Linked DNA regions of Homo sapiens: region 1 is linked to region 2. Evidence: fine-mapped expression QTL. A gene starts in region 2. The other region holds a variant in brackets. All regions are shown on one strand. Distances are from middle to middle.

Region 1 (10,721 bases), 28 kb before region 2:
CCTTATGGAACCTACATTCTAACGATGGTGTATTTTCAAAAGTATTCAACAAATAAATATGCAGTGTGTTGCCATGATGGTAAATGTTATGGAGAAAAATCCAGGAAGGTAAGGTGCAGGGAAAGCCGAGGGTAGTGGGGTTGCTATTCTATGTTGAGTCATCACAGACAGCCTCAATGATAAGGTACCATTTGTATAAAGACATCAAAAAGGTGAGAGATTTGCCTTGTCTTTTGAAAGGATCACTTTGGCTACTGTGTTGAAAATACACAAGAGGAGGCCAAAAAAAAAAAAAAAAAAACATAACAAAACACCAAAAAAAAAAACCCAACAAAAAGAAACCTGTTAAGAGGCTACTGCAAATCTATAAATGAGAGAGGATGGTGGCTTGGACCGGGGTGGGAGCAGGGAGCAGTGCGGCACATGAGTTCACATTGTGGCCATACTCTGAGGGTGAGGGTATAGAATTTTCTGATTGACTAGATGTGGCGTCCGAGAGAAAAAGAGTAGCCAAGGATGACACCAATGTTTCTGGCCTGAACAGAAGAGTGAAACTGTCATTACTGACATAAGAAAACTTTAGGACTAGAAGAACTGGGGAATTAAATGAGAAATCAGAAGTTTGTTTTCAGTTGTGTTGAACCTGAAATTTCTATTAGATGTCAAATAGGGAGCTGGAAATGTGTCAGGCGTTTATTAGCAAGCACCAGGCTAATATATTAATCTGAGAGCTGCGGCACTGGGGTGACACATAAAGTCACAGAACTCAATGAAATCCACGAGGGAATAAATGCAGGTATATAAGAAGAGAAGTCCAGGGATTAAGCTCTGGAACATTCCAATGCTTTGGCAGTCTAGGAGCTGAAGAGGAACCAGCAAAGGAGGCCAAGAAGGAGCTGCCAGTATGAATGGAAAATAAATATATTATTTCCATGAGAAAGGGGTAAGAATATTTTGGAAAGGAAATAATGCCATGTTGTATACAGGAAACTATGTGTAGTTAAGAACTACTAGAGTATAAAGTATAAAGTCAGAAATTGAGACAAGAGCTGCTATTGCTAGGCAGAAGAGACTGAGCTTTCCCCTGTGGGATATATGGAATCACAATAGATACAAGCAGTAGAGGGAAGGCGTTACATTGGTTTTTAGGAGGACCACTCCAGCTTCAGGGTATTGGATGAAGTTTTGTGGGGTTCTGGGAAGGAAAGGTAGGCCAGGCTGTAAACAGAAAACCTTAAGATGGTTTTCCAGTATGACCAGACAAACATTGCAAAAAGTAGATGATAGGCCATTAGGCACACAACTAAAATGAGAGAAACATAATTATCATTATAATATGCAAGTACAGACTAAAATTATGGTATTCACAAATGATCTGCTTGTTTTAAAATAACCAAATTACCAGGAGAAGAATACAATATCTCAGACAAGGGAGATGATGAAGACCCAGAATTAGAGCAGTGATAAACTGCCCATTAACTGACATAAGAAACAGATGACTCACAGTCTGGGGAAGGAGAAGGTGATGACGTCTGTTTTTGATGTTTTGTATTTGAGATGTTGGTGGAATTATCAAGAAGCTATGCTTGGCAGGGGGATACATAAGTTTGAAATTTAAGGGGGAGTTTAGAACTCAAAACAGATTTGGGAGTTATCAAAACAGAGGTTGTATGTAAACTACCAGAGTGGATGAGACTACCTATGATAGAAGTCAGTATTTTTCTTCAAACCTACTACTAGGGACAGGATGAGGGTAAGAGAGATGATGGAAAAGAAGCAAATATGGTAGGAGGAAGGAAAAAAAAAGACTGGGATAGAAAAAGAAGTGGAGAATAGAAGAAAAACAGGCAATAGATAGGCATTCTAAGCCAGGCATACCATTAATTCTGCGCAAACATCTGTGGTTTTTACCATCCTCTCCCAAGCCAAATAGCATATTTATTGGCTTTTTTGACCAAAGTTGCATTTCAAACTGATTACTTCAGTAAACAGTCTACAGTGATGCTTTTTTTTTTTAAACTTGGCTTACTAAAACTACACTGTTATTAGAGTTAGCAAAGTATATTTTTATTCAACAATGTACTGGGCTATACGCCAAGGATACAAAAATGAGTGAGACACAATTCTTTGCTCCAAGAACGTTTAACCAGGATGCATGATCCAGAAACAAACAGAATGATCTTTTCAACATGCAAATTTGATCCATCACTCTACTTAAAGCCCTCTGAAGCAGAGATTGCTAGTTGTCTCTCAGTAACCATATTTCTCTTCTTCTCTCATGTTTAACATGGTCATCGAGAAGAAAGGCTACACTCCCCCCTTCCTTGTGGGTAGATGTGGCCATATAACCAACTTCTAAATGTAAGTGGAAATGACGTCAGCAATGTCTAGAAAGTGTTCTTGAAGAGGAGGACATTTACTTCTCTTTCCTACTTTCTTTGGTCTGCTGGCTACAATGTAGATGTGATGGTTGGAACCGCAGAGTCCCCCTTAGACCAAGAGGGGACCTTGGAAATGGAGGCTACACGTGGCAGAGAAACAAGATAGAAGGAGTGTGGGCACCTGGAAGCTGTGGACTAGCTACAGACTTTTTGAATGCAGAGAAGATTAGCTAAGCCATTATTTTGTTGTTGTTGTTTCTGGTGGCTGATAACCAACTAATACACCTTTAATGTGATAATTATCATAGAATTATGTCTACCTTCTAGCTCTATTTTATTATCTATCTTTGTCTACCTATCCATCCATCCTGATGTCTGACTCTAAAGTGGAAATGGAATTCATAACAGATTCAATACAGAAAATGCAGTGCTTATCTGGTGAAAACACTAATATTTCCAGGTGAAAATTCAAGTATTTATTAACAGAAATACTAATTTTTTTAATCTAAAAAGTCACTAAACTCAATAAGTTTGCAACATTAAAATAAAATTCGTTCTTCAATAATACATCAGTATTATTGATTTCTATTATTAGAATAATTTCGTTAATATTTTAACTTACTTCTTTTGAAGGATTCATTGGTAATGTAAAGATAGTTTTCCAGTATGACCAGACAAACATTGCAAAAAGTAGATGATAGGCCATCAGGCACACAACTAAAATGAGAAAAACATAATTATCATTATAATATGCAAATACATACTAAAATTATGACAGTCACAACCGATCTGCTTGTTTTAAAATAACCAAATTACCAATTATAATACATTATGAAAGTTCCTTTACTTTATACTAGAATAAACACAACTCAACGAATTTATTTCCAAAGCCAAGAGTTTTTTACAAAAATTCCTAAATGCATAATGAGATCTATGCCCATGAATAAAAGCCTCCCATCTGTAGACAGACCATCTATTGGCAAAATCACTAACAAGGACCTTTTCTAAATTGTAAAAATGAGGCAGTTACGCCTCCAAATTTAAACAGCAAACACAGCATTAAAAACAAGTGTTAAAACACTCAGGCTTTAAGAACTTTGCTTTACTGACACAGATAACAAAGGCAGTTCCTATTTGAGAAGCTGTTTGCTTATTTGCTTGGCTCTAGTCAAAGCTGGTGTAATGATAACACATTTAAATGGAGAACATCTGGACAAAGAGATTTCCTTCAGTGGGAGTTCAAGTGTCTTATTTATTACATGGGACAATTGTTTTAAAAAAGTGTTCTGAATACTTTTTTCAGTAATGCATATAAACACACTCTGGGTGGTGTTATAAAGTCTTGAAATACTATCCAAAATTTTCTTTTCTTTTCTTTCCTTTTTTTTGAGACAGGGTCTCACTCTGTCGCCCAGGCTGGAGTGCAGTGGCTCACTGCCACCTCCGCCCCCTGGGGCTCAAGCAATCCTCCTACCTCAGCCTCCTGAGTGGCTGGGATTACAGGCATGCCCCACCTCACCTGGCTAATGTTAGTATTTTTCTTTTTTTTTTTAAGTAGAGACAGGGTTTCACCATGCTGGCCAGGCTGGTCTTGAACTTCTGACCTCAAATGATCTGCCCGCTTTGGCCTCCCAAGGTGCTGAGATTACAGGCATGAGCCACTGTGCCCGGCCCAAATTTTAAATATTAATTTTCTATATGGTGATAATGCTTCCTTCTGGGTAATACATTAATACACAATTTAATTCTGTAAGATATCATTGAATAAAATATGCTAATTTAAATATAGCATATTTGGCATTTTAAAACTTTAATAGCAATTTTAAATTTTTCTAAAGAATGAGGATACTCATAGAATCATTAAAAATTTGAATTATTCAATAAGGCACTTAAATCGGTGTGAGATGACTAAAGCCAACAATATTTTTCATAAATTATGTAGGTGACTCAGTTATAAGTTCATAATCTGAATTAGGAAAGGAAATTGTTGATATCCCTATACCTCAAAGCCTTAAGAATCTCTGGCACAATGACAGCCATTTCAGGATAGAATTCTTTGCCAAGGGTCTGACAGAATTCAATCTGCAAACTTAAGAGAAATGAGACATCTTTAACCCTAGCTTGTCTCCACATTCTCAAACAACAATTTATTAATCCCAACCAAATCTAAGTGAATACAATTTTTTTTCAAACTATTTAAAAAATCTATAACATTAATATAATCTAGCTTACCTTGTTCGCCAGTGTTTTCCATGGACACTGTAAAGAGAAAAAAAGGTAATAGGTTACATGAAGCTTATGGCAAACGGGGCTTGACACAGACATAAGGCATTTAAGTAGCTTAATAATGTGGCTTCCCTTCAAACCAACATTCTCTAAATATTTATTCAACTTTATTTGGAGGAGAGGTGAGCACAGTGTGGAGAGGGTGCAGGAAACGGCTGGAGGCTGCAGTCAGCCATGCCTCCATTGCGCACTTCAGCCCTGGCTCCTGTCCTGCGGAACAAAACTTGTCAAGTGTGCCCCTTGCGGGTCTTATTTCTGTATCATTTGGTTGACTGGTTTTCCTTCCAACTATAGAGTTCAGATAAAAGCAATGCTCTCCAGGTCATTACATTTCCGCAGGCATTTATTGCTCTTGATAAACTGGCAACCACCTGGTGAGCTTTCCACAAAGAATAAAATGTGTCCACAGCACACACTTTTTTTCCCCCTAATTTCTAAAAGTACAAATGCTTATGCACAGTGACTTTACTTGCTCCCTGTTGCACAACGAAAGGCCAGGCAGTGCTGGGAAACTGCCACTCCTCAGCGGCTGTTGTAAATATTCCAAGCTAGCAGGTATTATAGATGAGGAC[AGG/G]GGCCACAAGCACTAAAGCAAGCTGCGGCAAGAAGTTGTATTTAGTAATCAAGACATATGTACGCCTTTTGTATTGTCTATTTGTTTTCCCATTTGGTCTCTCTCTTTGTACTAGAGTCTTTGGAAGTTTTGCCCTATCTCAGCTGTAGCAAGTCTGACTTTGTATATTTTTGTCCTTATTCAGCTTTTCAAAAGGGCACGGGACCTCAGGCCTTGGTGCTGGAATGAAATGCGCTGCCTTCTGAAGCCTGGAACCAGAGGGTAGTGTGAGAAATTTTTAAGATTGCTCAGTCCAACCAATCTCCTGCCCAAGAGAGCTACCAAATATAAGTTCAGGCATTTCTAGAGCTAGCAGAAGCCCGTAGTTTCTTGGAGGGCAGCCCGTTCCACTGTTGGATTGCCCTAAGAATAAGAAAATTCATCCTTCCAGGGTGTTGAAATTGGCTGCTTTGTGACTTTTACCTGTGATACTGAGGCTTCCAAACCATAGCAACAAACAGAAGATCTAAATGACAGATCTTCACATATTTGATGTTATAGTGTCCCCCTTAAATGTTCTAGTTTACACCAACTAATATATGGTTTCCAGATCTCTTACTAACGTAGATGTGGCATCTGTAAATGCTTCCTAGGTTCTCCACTCCTTTTAACATTTCTGATCTCCAGAATGAGACAGGCAGGCCTGGATGACCTTCGATTTACAAATGGCCTGTTCTCCAAGTCCGCTTGTAAGTCAGAGGCTAGTCAGAGTTTGCTTTCTCATAGAATCCCTGAAGCAGCTCATCTGAGGGCACAGGAGAGGCTTGAGGCAAGCCTGTTTTTTAATATCTGAACCTACCGCCACAGGTATGCATTTCTTTCTAGACACTGACTACACCCTGTCTTCAAAAGTGCTCCAAAATTGACAACTCTTTTCTGGATCAAAATTTCCAATCCTTCAGTGGAGCCAATCTAAGGAAAGGAAAAGCAATTTGACTCCATTTGTGCATTTATATATGAATGACCCTTACTGACCATTCCAGAGGTGCTGGTGCTTGCATACAAATGTGTTTGCTACTCCACTGACTCGAGTGGAGAGAACTGAAAACTAAGACAAAGTGACATTTTTGAAAAAGGTATAGTTAGGGGCTGGGCACGGTGGCTCACACCTGTAATCCCAACATTTTGGGAGGCCAAGGTGGGTGGATCACCTGAGGTCAAGAGTTCAAGACCAGCCTGGCCAACATGGCAAAACCCCGTCTCTACTAAAAATACAGAAAATTAATCAGGTGTGGTGACACGCGCCTGTAATCCCAGCTACTTGGAGGCTGAGGCAGGAGAATCGCTTGAACCCGGGAGGCAGAGGTTGCAGTGAGCCAACATCACGCCACTGCGCTCCAGCCTGGGCAACAGAGTGAGACTCTGTCTCAAAAACAACAACAAAAAAAAAGGTGTAGTTGGTACGAGTTGCTAATCTTTTTGACCTGGACCACTACTCTATAAGCCTGATATGCATTCAAAGACTTTGTTTTTAAAGCTATTATTATTATTATTATTATTGCCATTCACAGTTTGCTTTTCCCTAAATGTAATTCAAAATCCACAGATGTTCTATTTTTTTAAAAGTACACAACTTACACATAAATTCATCTTTATAGTAAATAATTGTGTAACATTTGTAGAATGAAAGGGATCAGTTCAAAAGGCTGTATCCAATTACACTTTCGCCAAGATTATGAGCCGGTTCAATTTCCTGTAAACGTAACTCTGTTTAATTTTTGTCGACATCATAGGCCTAAATAAAAATCATTATTTTAGCATTCATTTCCCTTATTATTAGTGCAGTTTGGCATTATTTTTAAAACACTATGATTGGGATTTCCTTTCTCTTCTATGTGAATGATTATTTTCCTATTGGCCTACTTAGTTACTGAGAGCCTTTTATATATTCTGGACAGAAATCTCATATCTGTTATATATATATTGCAAATAAAACTGCATATAGCTATTTTAAATGATTTAATAAGTACTAGCAACATTTTTATCACTTGCCACTGATTAAGTAACATTATCAAAGTTTGCAAATTAACTTATTTCATTAACAGATATATGGACTATGCAAGGTTTTGCTTTGTGATACTCAGGAAATGAATGTTCTTTCAACCATGGTTACTTAATTAGTAAATCAGTGATTTACCTTGTAATTTTCAGTTTAATGGCAGAGTTGTCAAGTTCAAAGTTTCCTTTCTCACAGAGTAAAAACACATAAAATACAAAGTTATTGTCAAATGCAAATATTTTTGTTCAAAAGTAACTGTTCAAGAAAAGATTGCTCAAATTTAGCCTCAAACACTTTTCTAATATTTATGTATATAAAGATAACATATGAAAAATAGAGACTCATTTTTGAAACAATATAGATGGTAATCAAATATAATTTGATTATTTATAACAATACAAAAACTAAATAGCAATACTGAACATAATTGGGACAGGTCTTCTAAAAATAACTATTGGTTTTAATGTGGATTTTGAGTTTTAATCCAGGATTATTTAATTTTCTTACTTCACAGACAGAATTTCAATTTGTTTGATTTAACAATGATGCTGATACCTATTCTTCAATTTTTACCATAGAGAAATTTCAAGTGTTGTATAGCCTTCTTTATCTCATTTCCTTTAAACCAGTTATTGAGATAAATTAATAGTTATTTCAATTTTTGTCAACAGAAAACTGAGGTTTACTCAGTTTTTACTAAAGCAAATGAGCTTTATTCTCAAAGTCACGACGAATAGCACATTAATTCTACCTTAGAAATTCTTTTATTTTCAATTTAAACATTTCCTGCCTGTAACAAAAACGTTACAACTTCCAGCTCTGCTGGATCATATTAAAATTAATTCCTCATTAAAGCACAAGAACTGGCATAGAGCATCTGCCCCATTAATGTTTACTGAGTAAGAGACTGACTTAGACAAACAGACCATGACAACTAATTTGAATCACATAAAACTGGTATATCAAAGCGGACATATGAGAAGTATTCATTTTTCTTTTGTGGGCATGAAAAACTCAAGAGAAAAGTTATTTCTATTACCATGTTAGCTTAGCACACCATAGCACTCAACTGATAGTTGAAAAAAGCGAAAGTAATCTCTTCTGTGAGGTGAAGAAAACACTTCTCTAAAGAGAGGAGAGAGGGAGAAGACAAAATGGTTCCTGTTCCTTTAAAAAGGAAAAAGCTGAGGGAGATACTGGCTTCAACTGGGCTTCAAGCAACTTTGAAGACAGACAGGGTCTATAAGTTCACAGGGTTCCCTCCACCCCCAGCTTGGTTTTGGTTCTTCCTTAGTATTGTACTTTTTTATAGTTGAATTTGTCAAAATGGAAAAGAGATTATTACTAAGCATAATAGCACCAAAGAGCAATGGCTGGGGATAAAGAAGGCAAGGTCCAATCCTGCCTCTGCCACTTGCTGGCTTACATAAGCTATCCCACTTATTCCACTACAAAATGAGGGTGATTGCTGCAGCAGTAGCATTAGGGCTGTAGCGAGAATTCAAAGGGACAATAAAACAATGTACTTAACACAGTGCCTTGTGTAGAGTAAGCCCCATGAATGTACAATTATAATATATCATCTTTCATCTTGATAATATTAACTGTAATGTATAACGTATAGGAAAGGGGGCTAAACAAGGAAGACAAATTACAAAGAGAAAAGTAATATTTGTACAGGCTCCTGAAAGAAATAAATGCAAAATGTTGAACAAAAATAGACTTGGCGAGTGAAAATAAAAGGTGAAAAATAATGTAAATCTGAATTATCTTATAAGTCAATTGCCTTTTTAAACGGATGTGTCATTTCAGAAACTTGTTTAAACCAAAAAAGTGGTCTTCATTCTTAACACAGAGTAATGATGAGATGTTAAAACTTCGATCTTGATGTGCCAGTTAGTCCTTTTGAGAACTTAAATGTGAAAGAATCTATTTTGGATAGGCACTGTTTAACTTAATGAATAAAAACAATTACTTTAAAAAAAAATAAAGACCTAAATCTTATAATCACCCCAAAGAAGTTAGGTGCAGTTTATTCCTGGGAATTAAAAGCATTGCTATTATTACACTAAAATATTTACCAATCCTACATCTGGTGGATGGCACCATTCATACCATCTAAATACACACAATAGGAACACTGTGAATCACAATTTTAATTTTAATTTCAAACACTTATTTGCCTCATTTTATCTTGGATTAGCCTAATTTCTTTTTGGTCCATGCCCTACAATGATAATATTTTGCTTTAGCAATTTCTAATCTTCCAATATACCTCCAGAACTTCAAGTTCCTCTGTGATTAATTGTGGGAACTGCAGCACTTTCTTGGCCCTGACGGTATATAGGAAGAGAGAAAGTGAAAAAGGTAAATTACTACTATAGTTACCAAGAATGTTCCTGTTTGCCAAAAGTAAAATTATGGCCTTCAGGAATCACATTTTGGGCTGGGCGGCCCACGCATGAAATGCCAGCACTTCGGGAGGCCAAAGTGGGAGGATCACTTAAGGCCAAGAGTTGGAGATCAGCCTGGACAACACATTGAGACTGTGTCTCTACAAATAAACTTTTTTTTTTAGCTGGGTGTGGTGGCACTGCCTGTGGTCCCAGCTACTTGGGAGACTGGGGGCAGGAGAACTGATTGAGCCCAGTAGTTCAAGGCTGCACTAAGCTATGATCACATCACTGTACTCCAGCCTGTGCGATAGAGTGAGACCCTGTTTCTTAAAACAAAAAGAAGAAGAAATAAAGAAAACAAAAAAAGAACTTCATCTTAAAATCTAGAACCATCATCGATGCTACAAAGCTTGTAGATTGGGTCACCAGTTGTATTATCTGGCTGCGCTTTACGCTCACCCCCTCCACCGCCACTGATCATTCCCGTAAGAAAGACAGGACAACCAGGCACAGTGGCTCAAACCTCTAATCCCAGCACTTTGGGAGGCCAAGGTGAGAGCATAGTTTTGAGGCCAGGAGTTTGAGATTGGCCCGGGCAACACAGTGAAACATCATCTCTACAAAAAAATTTAAAAATTAGCCAGGCATAGTGGTGCCCACCCATGGTTCCAGCTACTCGGGAGGCTGAGGTGGGAAGATCACTTGAGCACAGGAGGTCGAGGCTGCAGTGAGCTGTGATCCTGCTACTGCATTCAAGCCTGGGCAACAGAGCGTGACCCTGTCTCAAAAAAAAGAGAGAAAGAAACAGAGTAGGACAACATATAAAAAGGCTGAACTAATCAGTCCTCAGTTTAGAATTGGTAAGACTGATAAGAGTGACAGTTTTTTGTTATAACATTAATTGTTTTTTAAGAAATCCTTGTGTAAAAATAAAACAGGTAAAATTGAAGTTAAAGAGTGAGACTGTCAAAGTAATAACCCATAATATAGAAAAGGATGACAAACTGCTCCTTAATCCAACCTGGCTTGAATGAAACATCCTTTCA
Region 2 (10,721 bases):
CTTAGCCTCCCGAGCAGCTGTGACTACAGGCACGCACCACCACACCTGGCTAATATTTGTATTTTTTGGTAGAGACAGGGTTCCACTATGTTGGCCAGGCTGGTCTCAAACTCCTGACCTCAAGTGATCCTCCCACCTTGGCCTCCCAAAGTGCTGGGATTACAAGGGTGAGCCACCGTGCTGGCCAATAAGTAATCATTTCTAAGGTGACGTAGGCGTTAAATGTTTTGCATACATCAGTTTTCTATGGATGTGCCTTACATTCCACTTAAAACTATTTTAATATTTAAAACAGTTGGCAAAACCAACTAATGGCAAAAACTGCAATTACTTTTGCATCAACTTAATAGAACATCTGTATTCCCAAGATCTACTGCCTGTTCTTTTTTTGTGAAAAATGCTTTATTGTCCTACACAGTTTTTAAAGTAATAGTTTAAGTATCAGGAATATCAAGATATTAATAATATAAAGCAACAGTTTAAAATCAATAACAAGAAAACATTTCTTCTTCTGTGTAGCTCAAATTCATTTCATGGTGGAAAACAACTGACAGCCCCAGCAGTCTCTATCCTTGAGCCTGCAGTGGCCTTCAATGAATGGTAGGTCATAACTTCACAGAATCCAAGTAGGAGGCTTTGTGTATTTTGTTCTTAGGGATGTTTGTTTTCTTGTTTGTTTAAAAGAATGAAAACATGGCAGCGTATCTCTCAAACTGATCCCTAAGTATTATAATCACTGTGGAATATAACAGGCTGCAATCACTGCTGAAGGATGTTTAGTAATAAAGACAGCAAAACTGCGAGTAAAACCTCAAGATTCTAGTGGTCTAGCTTCCCACATACTCCAAAGCTCAGCAAACTTTTGCCCAAGGGCCAAGATTGGCCAAATATTTTTGTTGAATAAAAGCCACGCCCATTTGTTAAAGTATCTTCTATGGCCGCTCTCTAAGATAGCAGAGTTGAGTGGTTGGAACAGAGATCACACGGCTTGCAAAGCCAAAAATATGTACTATATAGCCCCAAACTACAAAGCCCTTTAAATCTCTAAAATTGTGTAAAGACTGTTGGCTTATTTTCAGAGCTCTGTCAACTCTCTGTAAACGATAATAAAGTTAAAAAGAGTTGCTGCATAACTTCAATGGGCTAAGATATTTGGAGAGGGGTTTGCTGGGAAAAGGAGACATCTGGACATCTGCATTACAGCAGCTAAGGTCATAGCTGACACCTCCGCTAGGTAACTCGGAGGAAGGACATTGAACTTGTGGCAACTCTGGAATTTAGTTTAACTCTTTCGTTTAAAAATACAGAAGGGGTTAGCCTGGATGACCTTTAAGCTTTTGAAAATTCATGATCGTTTAAAATGACGTAACTAAAACCGTAAGCAAATTCAGAACTACATGACTGCGCAACATCATCATAAACGTCCCATAGCACCTGCCTAAGGAGCAGGAAAGTAATATATTTAAGAAAAATGGGAACTGAACTGGTTACACAAGTGTATGTGGAAGTTTCTTGTACTATTGAAACTTTTCAGTAAATCTGAAATAAAGAAAACGGTATGAAATAGTTAAAACAATTTAAATGTTAGCACTTAAAAGGGGAAACTTCAGTGAACCTTCTTCAACAAGCGAAGTTAACACAGCAGCAGCCATAAGGGATCTGTAAAACATAAACCACGTCGTGTGCTCGCTGAATGGAGCATGCCTGAGGCTGCAGACCTCCCTCATTCCCTCTCATAGTGCATCCTAAAGTTCCCCGTACAAATGTTACCTTTGAGTTTATCTTACTTGACGGAAACCAACCTAATATCTAAAGAGAGCAAAGAGAGTTAAAACACAAAAGAAGCCAGGAGTGGAGAGAGGGACAGGAGGGACAGGGGAGAGGGAAAAGGAGTGGTAAGAGAAGGAAAGGATGGAGGGGGAGGAATACAAATAGAAGAGCCTCGTTAATCAACAAACGAGATAAACGTGGTCCAAATGATTAGAAGTATAACTGTCTTTTGTGATCTTTTCTTTGGCAGAATAGGAAGCTGACTTAACCAAAAATACTTGACTCTCACACAATATATGTACATCCCATATATTTTACATATACACATATTCCAAAAAGAGAGGTTATTTTTATAAAATACAAACACTAAGCAAAAATTATGCTAACTGAAAAAGTGCCTAGAGAGCCACATACATCCACGTTGTTAAATATAGAAACTAACTGTAATGAGAATCATTATCTCCAGTTTCCAAGGATACCAGGATAAGCACTACTCCTAAATTGCAGTTCATTCAGCAAAGGGCACAGAATAATTTATATTCAGGGTCATCCCTAGCTGAGAGCAGATGTGGAAGGAGGACCAGGGTAAATCACCTTGTTTCTTCTATTCCATTTGCTACCTGATCCAGTTCCCAGCCCTCGACCCCCACACTCTGGTCCCAACCTTGGCCAATGTTTTATGGAAGAAATTTGGAAAATCTGCTTGTAAATGGCAACTTCCAAGAGAAAAAGAATCTTCAAAGGGCAGGGCAGTCTGAGATGTGATTAATACTGGGGGTAGGGTGGGGGCTGGTATTTCCATTTGCTTTGTCTGTGAAAAGGAAAGGAGTCTGGGAGTCTGGTTTTGTGTGTCAGTCACACTAGTCGCCATCTTTCCCAGTGCCTATAAGGAAATTTCAACTTCCCACTCGACCAAGGCTATGCAAAGCTTGCCACTCATAAACTGCCATGGTCTCTAGAATCAAATTCAGCTTCAACTTGTTCTTCCTTCTTAGACTCTAGAATCTAGATCTTTCATAACAATTACTTTTTGTTTCTACAGCAATAAAAATATAAAAGCTACTTTCTGAAAACCTAGGAGATAGTGCCTCTGAATCATTTATTTGTTTATTCAAGACCACTTACTGTTGTTTTCAATGTGGCAGGCATTGCGCCAGGCCAGGCAGACAGGCATTACGCCAGGCAGACAGGCATTGCGCCAGGCAGGCAGGGACAAGAAGTGATAGATAAGGTATCAATAACAGGCCACGCCACTTAGGCAGTTTAAAAAGAGGCATTCTTCCTCTTAGTCAAATCGTCACTTACTAAAATACTGATGCGGATTTTATGGATACTCTAGATTTGTCTTAAACTTACAGAAAGTACATATAAACATACGATTCAGATATAATACCAATTTTCCATTTAGTTCCTTCCCCATCACCTGTCTACCCAATACAATAATAAGATCTGCCATATAGCACCTCAGCTAGGAGCAGACATCCTTCTAACGGGCAGAAGAGCTCTCTCTGCCTTCAAATGCTTCCTCTTAATGGACAGGAGACACTGTACCAAGATAAGCGTCTTAGCTTAATGTGATAATACAGGAGAATAGGCTATTTTGATAATGAAGGCCTTCTAGGATGTCCCTTCTTTGCAGGTTATATTAATCGATACTGGTCACTGTTTTTAAGAGGACGAAGGAATGAAACACAACAAAGGTTCCCAACAGTTACGTAACATATACAGTCTATCTCAATAAGGCAAGCTATTTTAAGATTAACAGTTAATACAAAATTTACTACACGTCCTTTCCTATATATTTTAGATGACTTGACGACTGCATACCTAAATGCATCCTCATGATAATGCCTGTACAGCCTCATCTTTTCCCAACAACAGACTCAAGGTTTTTTTTTTGGACTATTAAGCTTGTTTCTAAATCCCTTCAAGTAATAACAGCAAATTTTAAAACTATATGAAATAAAAGTCTCGGTTCTCTTACAACTTACATCAGTGATTATTTTGATGTATTATTATGACACTTTCTCACAAGGCGCAACATTTTGAGGTAAGATGGCTTCAGACAAGATTTTATGTCTGAATCTTGAGGCTTTGAAAATGCTGAGCTTGTGAAGGCTCAATATAATAGGCCACTATTTCATCTTTTCCCTCGTCCCACCCAAAGCTAGCACTTGGTAGGGCAAAAACAGACACTTTGTTAGGTGGAGCACCAAACACAGAAAGCATTCACAAGTCACTGGCAGAAAGGTCATTTTCTGTTTTAACATCTTTTTCTGATAACCCAGATCAGTTTTCATAAAACCCCTGAAGGTAGAAACCAGCTTACATTAAGCGACATCATTGTACTCCCTACTTGTGCATAATAATCAACTTTTTAAAAAATTTTAATCTTCAGCATTAAAAGTATCCTACCCACCAATTCAGGAACCTCGAACTCGGACTGGAGCCACTTCGCTCTCTGGATGTAAAAACCTCAGACGATCACCTCTTTTTTTCTCTCCCTACTGTTCAAACACCTAAATTATGGTTTAGTGTGTTGCACATGTCCTCAAAAATACTTTCTAGTAGCTCACCTCCTCCACATCCTTTTAAACTAGAAAAGTGTCCAACTGGCAATCCTCAAATCATAAAGGCAGCAAAAACGCCCCTGAGCGCTGTCACAAATTTTTAACAAGTGCATTGACGCCAACCAGCAAGGGATCCAGCTCCGCCGCCAAGGCCAGCACCCCCGCGCGGGTCTGGCGCAGCTCGGGGCCGGGCCCAGCTCAGCCCTTCAGCCCCCGGCGCGCCTCGCCGGCCTCGGCCTCCCCTCTCCACAGCGGTCCCGGGGACCTTCCGCCCCTCTAGGGGGTGTGGCCGAGGCGGCGGCGGTGAGCGGAAGGCGGCGGGAGGCTCGGCGGCGAGTGCGGGGCGGAGGCGCCACCTTAACCCGAGAGTTGGGAGGGGAGGGCGAGGGGCGTGCGCGTGGAAGAAGCTGCCCCGAGGCTGCTTTTAGCGGCGGAGCCGGCGGGACGCGGCAGGTTGGCAGCGCCCGGGGCGCATCCGGGGGGCGAGAGCGGAGGAGCGGCTGAGCGTCCCGGGACAGTCGGGGTGGGCTGCGCTGCGCTGGGGGCGCCGCGGCGGGGGGCGCACTCACCTATGCACAGCTGGATGGCGTAGGCGTAGTAGGACCAGCCGAGCAGGAGGGTGATGAACACCACCGGGATCCAGTACAGCACCCGCCGGCACCGCCGCCTGGCGCTGCTGCCCGGGCCCGAGGGCGCCATCTTCCAGCCGCATCCACCTGCCCAGCTCCGCCGCCGCCCGCGGGCCTGGCTCCGGGGCGGGCTGGGCGGGCCCGGCACCCCTGGCTGGACGGGCTCCTGGGCGGCGGCGGGGTGCGCTGCGGCCACTGCCGCCGCCGTGGCGCTAACTCCCCATCCCGCAGCCCCGAGCCGGCGCGGCGGACTCCCGGCTCCTCAGCCCGGCGGAGGCGGAGGCGGCGGCTGCGAGCGGAGGCCGAGGAGGCGGAGGGGGGCGGTGAGGCGGCGGCGTCGGGAGGCTGCGCTCCGCCCCCGCCGTTCCCCGCCGCCCGGCCGCCTCCCCTGGCGTGGCAGGCTGCGCCCTCGGGCGGGCTCTGCGGGGATGCGGGGCCCTCGCTCGGGCCACCTCGCGGGCTCCCACCGTGGCCCCGCCGCCTCCGGCTCGGCCTCTGGATTCCGGGGAGGCGGGGGCTGCTGGGCGCAGGCCCCCGGGGCGGAGCGGGCGGTGGCGGCCCCTCCCTAGGCGCCCGGCACCCGGGGCAGTTAGGTCGCGAGCGCTTCCGCGCTTGGCGCAGGGCGGGGGTCGGAGGCGAGGCCGGCGGAGCAGCTGCTGCGCTCGGGACTCCGCGCCTGCCGCGACCCAGGCGCCCTGAGAAAGTCTGCAGCACCGAGGCCCGCGTCCCCGCAGCCCGCGTGGAACCCTCGCGCTTCAACTTGCGGGTCCCTGGGAGCCCGCGGGGGCCGCAAGGAGCCTCCCTTTACTACTCGGGCTTTCGGGGGAAGCAGAAATGCACAGCGAAGAGGGGGTGCCGAGCCGGCGTCTGGCATGGGAGGGGCTGTGGAGAGCGAGGAAGAAGCATTTTTGGCTGTGAATCCAGGCACCTCTGGAGTTAGAAACACAAGTTCTTTGCTCTGAGAATGTTGATGCTTTGGATAAATGATTGTGACAGGGGCCGTTCCCACTGTCCCCTCCCTCAAGTACGGTGGTTCCTTCCACCAACTATTTATTCTTTTCCTCAACCCGCTCCTCACTACGGTGTTTACTTTCGTGGTGGCAATTCCAAACTTAGCAGATAGCTGACTCCAAAGCGGTTCCCAAAAAACACCGTAAGGGAACCTAAAGGTAGTCAGCCCAAACCTCTGATTTTATGATTCACGAAATGGAAAATAAACAAATGCCTCCTTTGCTTTTCCTTCATCTGATTATGAACGCACCTGATCCACAGGGAAACATTTCAATCAATGAGTGTGTGTAAATTATGTGCATCACTACTATACATAATAGGCACAATTTTTCTTAACATTAGTGAATATGTGTATTTACACCACACAGCAACCACAGTGAATGAAATTACTTCTTATTCATGTGTAGAAGTAAAAAAAAAATACTGATTTACATGAATTCAGTCAAAGAAATTTAGCTCTGGTGTCTGCGATTATCTTTCTGTGACTGGATTACACAACAAGCTAATCTCTCCCGAAATAGCTACTATGTTACAGCCCCCCACCCCACATCTCTTTCCATTTCTCTTCAAAAATGCATAGAAAATGTCAGTCAAGTTTCTGTGGGACTTTAAATAATTGAAAAGAGAGACATATTATGTCCCAGTGAATCACTTGATTTTGCTGTAGCCTTTTATATTCTCTGTGGATATTCTGTATATTAATGTAAAAATAAAACTTCTCTGGATTCCTTAATGTTTTCCATGAATATTAATCCTGTGTTCCCCCCCAATCAGAAGAGAGTAAAAAACAGGAATTAAAACTTCCTCCTGGGACTGAAATACCCTCACAAAGAGAAGCAAATCAGTGACTGAAGGTCAATAGAGACCATCAAGGTATGAAAAGGAAGGAATCGGATTTTCCATACTGGAAACGGTGGAGAAAGTGCAAATAGTGCCTCTGTAGATCCTGGATGCGACGATGCCCTGTGCTCTTCCTCCTCTCACAGTCCTACAGGGTCTTGAAATCGGAAATGGAATAGCATTCTGCCCAGTTTTCACATCATCTACCCTTTTGGAAAAGTATGCAGGTGTCATATCTTTGAAGGAGCTACATTTTTATTACTCATCTAAGATGTTGTTTAATTGTTCCTATTTATAATAAATATTTGTGAAATATTTTCAACTTTTTTTTGTTATTGCCATTTTAAGGATACTACTATTACTGGGTTTTTCAAGTTCTCTTATCTTAAATACAGAAAAAGTCTGGATTAGGAAGAAGCATCTCCACAGCCACAAGATAACAGGATTGATCTCTGCGTAGTCTCTAATTAGGCATAAGCAGCACGCACAAATGTAAGCTCTTTGGTGAGTAGCCAATCTCTAGATACTAGTCTTTGATGAGAGTGGAAGGAGAGCTTTTATTTTGAGGTATAGAGAGCCTTTGATTTATTTTCTTTTTCTTTAGGACTACATAAACAGAAAAAATAATTTGAAGGTCATAGACAAGAAGAAACTTCACTAGAGACTTACTGTTTAGAAATACAGAAGATTCAACTCACGAATTTTAATTTAAATGTTCAATAAGCATAAGAAATTGTAGGTTTCATGTATAACTGTGATTAAACTGATATGACCACTTATGAAAAAGAAAGCCAGCCACAGCAAAGGAGGAAGAAGGCGACGCTAAGGAAGAGAAGAGACGAGCGGACAGCCAGGCAAGGAGGGGGGTGAGGGGAGTGACTGAGAACGGGAGAAAAGCCCCCTTGCTGGGTTCATCCAGTCCCTAATGACCATGACTCCATCCTCGCTAGGCCTCTGCCTGTATGCTCCTTGCACTCAGCGGTCTAGCAACATCATTCACCTCTCAAATTTTCACAACTCTTATTTTCAGTTCCTGCCCCATGAAGGAATCTCTCTTTTTTTGGGGGGGGGGGGCGGACAGAATTTCGCACTGTTGCCTGGGCTGGAGTGCAATGCCGCCATCTCGGCTCACTGCAACCTCCGCCTCCCGGGTTCAAGCGATTCTCCTGCCTCAGCTTCCCGAGTAGCTGGGATTACAGGTGCCCGCCACCGTGCCCGGCCAATTTTTTGTATTTGTAGTAGAGACAGGGTTTCAGTATGTTGGCCGAACTGGTCTCAAACTCCTGACCTGGTGATCCGCCCGCCTCGGTCTCCGGAAGTGTTGGAATTACAGGTGTGAGCCACCGTGCCCAGCCCAGGAACCTTAAACGTTCCTCCTCTCCCTCCAGCCCAGTCCCCCAAATTCTTGAGTTCCCAAACCTCAAGTCTGCCGTACTTTCATGATTAATACTGCTAATCTTCCTTCTGCCTGCAGATCCAGATTACCATTTTAACATAGTCCCTTGCATAGTATGAATCAAACATAGCATGCTAGCCAAACCCAGGAAGGCGTGGACGCACCTGCTGCTAGAGAACACAGATCCCCCTTAATGTTGCCTATGCCAACCTCATCTCAAGCTTTTCAGCCAAAACACCTACCAGAAACTATTAGGACACTTGCTTGATATTTACTCCTTCCTTTTGGAAGGGTTCTTAGAGGGCAACATTGCAACAAGATATGAGGTCAGTCGTATTAGTCTCATGTATATGAGACGTTGATTGTCTTGAGTTTGCTAAGAGGGTATGATACTTCACAAATACAAGGAGTTCTAAATCTTACAAGGATTGGAAGCAATGAAGCTGAGGTCTGGATCTATATCTTATTTACTAATGGCTCTCCCATCCTTACTAGAGTGGTCTGCATGAATACTGATAGATTCTCTTTCATTATTTTCTCAAACTTAATCTTATCACTCTTTTGGGGGAGAAGAGCTCTTTAGAAGGCAGCAGTCCATGACATCAGTGACTCCAGTGTCAATGTGCATGTTTATAATAGCGGTCAAAACATTCTCTGTGGGAGAAGAATAGCATGCCTAAACCACTTTTTGTTTCTGGAGATACATAAAATAAAAGAAAAGGAATCGCGCTTAGGGAATGTAGGAATGAAGTAATGCTTAGATATGTTTTGGCTGTCAGAGATTTATGTTTGCAATTCAGCTGTAATTATATTGAATAAAATGGGAGATAATTTCAAAAGCCTAAGGATGTCTCTGTATACAGTTGATTGGGTCGAAACACTGGGACAATGTAAAGTGGAGCAAACTGTCCCTGGCAAACCTGCCTTTCAGGCACACTAGGGCTTTCACGGTAGCATTAATGTGTCCTGCCACTAGATGGCAGGCACACACCAAGCAGTGCAGCAGTCTTCACCTTTTCTCCATAGATTTCAATAGTTATCAACTGTTAGCTTAAGCAAGGCAATTATAAATATGAATTATAACTTCATGAACAATTATATATCATTGTAACTAATTATAATTATGTTATAATTGGCCAGGCGCGGTGGCTTACGCCTGTAATCCCAGCACTTTGGGAGGCCAAGGCGGGCAGATCACCTGAGGTCAGGAGTTTGAGAGCTGCCTGGCCAACATGGCGAAACCCCATCTCTACTAAAAATACAAAAAATTAGCTGGGCGTGGTGGCGGGTGCCTGTAATCTCAGCTACTTGGAAGGCTGAGGCAGGAGAACTGCTTGAACCTGGGAGGTGGAGGCTGCAGTGAGCCAAGATCACGCCAATGCACTCCAGCCTGGGCAACAAGAGCAAAACTCCTTCTCAAAACAAAAAGTTATGTTATAATTATACAGTTTTTATATTATAATTTAATGGCTAACGATTAATAAAAACGACAACCCTATTCAAAAAATTTAAAAGACTTAAAGCATTTTTCTATATAGTAAATCGTTCTGATTCTGCGTGCACTTCTTTAGAATTCGCACTAAGGTCAATCTCTTTGGAAATAAAATAGGAAATTTTCATTGAAATAATATTTTTGCTTACACTGTTTCCCTTCTTTGCCCCTAAATGGGGAGGGGCACTGTCTATGAACCCAAAAGGTGAGCAGACATGTCCTTCCAGTGGACTGACACAGCTATACTATGGATCTCTAAGGGGTGATACAATGTCCGAAGTTCAACTGGAGATTATTAGAAGTGGCCGTTGTGGAGTTGAGAGCTGAACAGCCAGCAGAGAGTGACCAAGGGCAGCAGAATTCTGCAGTGTAGTGGCAAGTGTCCAGGGATATTAAGAGCAGCAATGGCATCCTAGGTTGACTGTTCTTGGTGGCAAGATCTTGGCCATGCACCAGCTTCCTTTGTTCCAGCTCAAGCTTGATTCTCCAGGCTTCCTTTTGATTTTGGAGGAGTGCCTATATAACTGCATAACATTTTTTATGTAAGTCAACTAGAGTTGACTTGTGTTTACAACCAAGAACTCTGAATGGCACGTAGTTTTAATTTCATTCTGCATCTCATTGCTTAAAGAGTTAGTTTCAGCTCATGGAGACCAAGGCACCTTGAGAAATAGGGATACAGGAATTTGGGGGTGAAGAAGCTTACTTGGTGCCATTCAAATCACACTCTCTTGACCTGCATTGTTCAATAAGTACCCACTAGTAACATTTGTTGCCACTATTCAAATTTGTTAAAATTAACATGAAATGAAATTGGAAATTCTTAGTTGCAATAGTCACATTTCAAATGCTCAATAGCCACATGTGGCTAGTGGCTACTGCATTGGATGCTGCAGATCTAGAACATTCCATCATTGAAGAAAGTTCTGTTGGACAGAACTGTTTAGACATTTTGTCTTGTCTGAATATTCAAAAGGCTTTATTCTTGTAAATGTAAGAAACAAAAAAGTCCC

Evidence for each region. PIP is the estimated chance that this variant, and not a neighbour inherited with it, causes the effect.
Region 1: its variant is fine-mapped to the expression of ZDHHC2 in esophagus mucosa (GTEx, PIP above 0.99). The same link has a PIP of 0.9 or more in sun-exposed skin.

What each region holds. Positions count from the first base shown.
Region 1 is chr8:17,178,708-17,189,428 of GRCh38, reverse strand. It overlaps ZDHHC2 (zDHHC palmitoyltransferase 2), which reads right to left. Exons shown (of 13, transcript NM_016353.5): 2 at 4,614-4,640; 3 at 3,004-3,098. Among named protein-coding and RNA genes, the nearest start is that of ZDHHC2, 28 kb to the right of the region's middle. The variant AGG/G (reference allele first, on the strand shown) is at 5,240.
Region 2 is chr8:17,151,042-17,161,762 of GRCh38, reverse strand. ZDHHC2 (zDHHC palmitoyltransferase 2) reads right to left here and starts at 5,281. Exons shown (of 13, transcript NM_016353.5): 1 at 4,910-5,281. The coding sequence starts at 5,039. RefSeq lists a silencer at 4,463-5,822.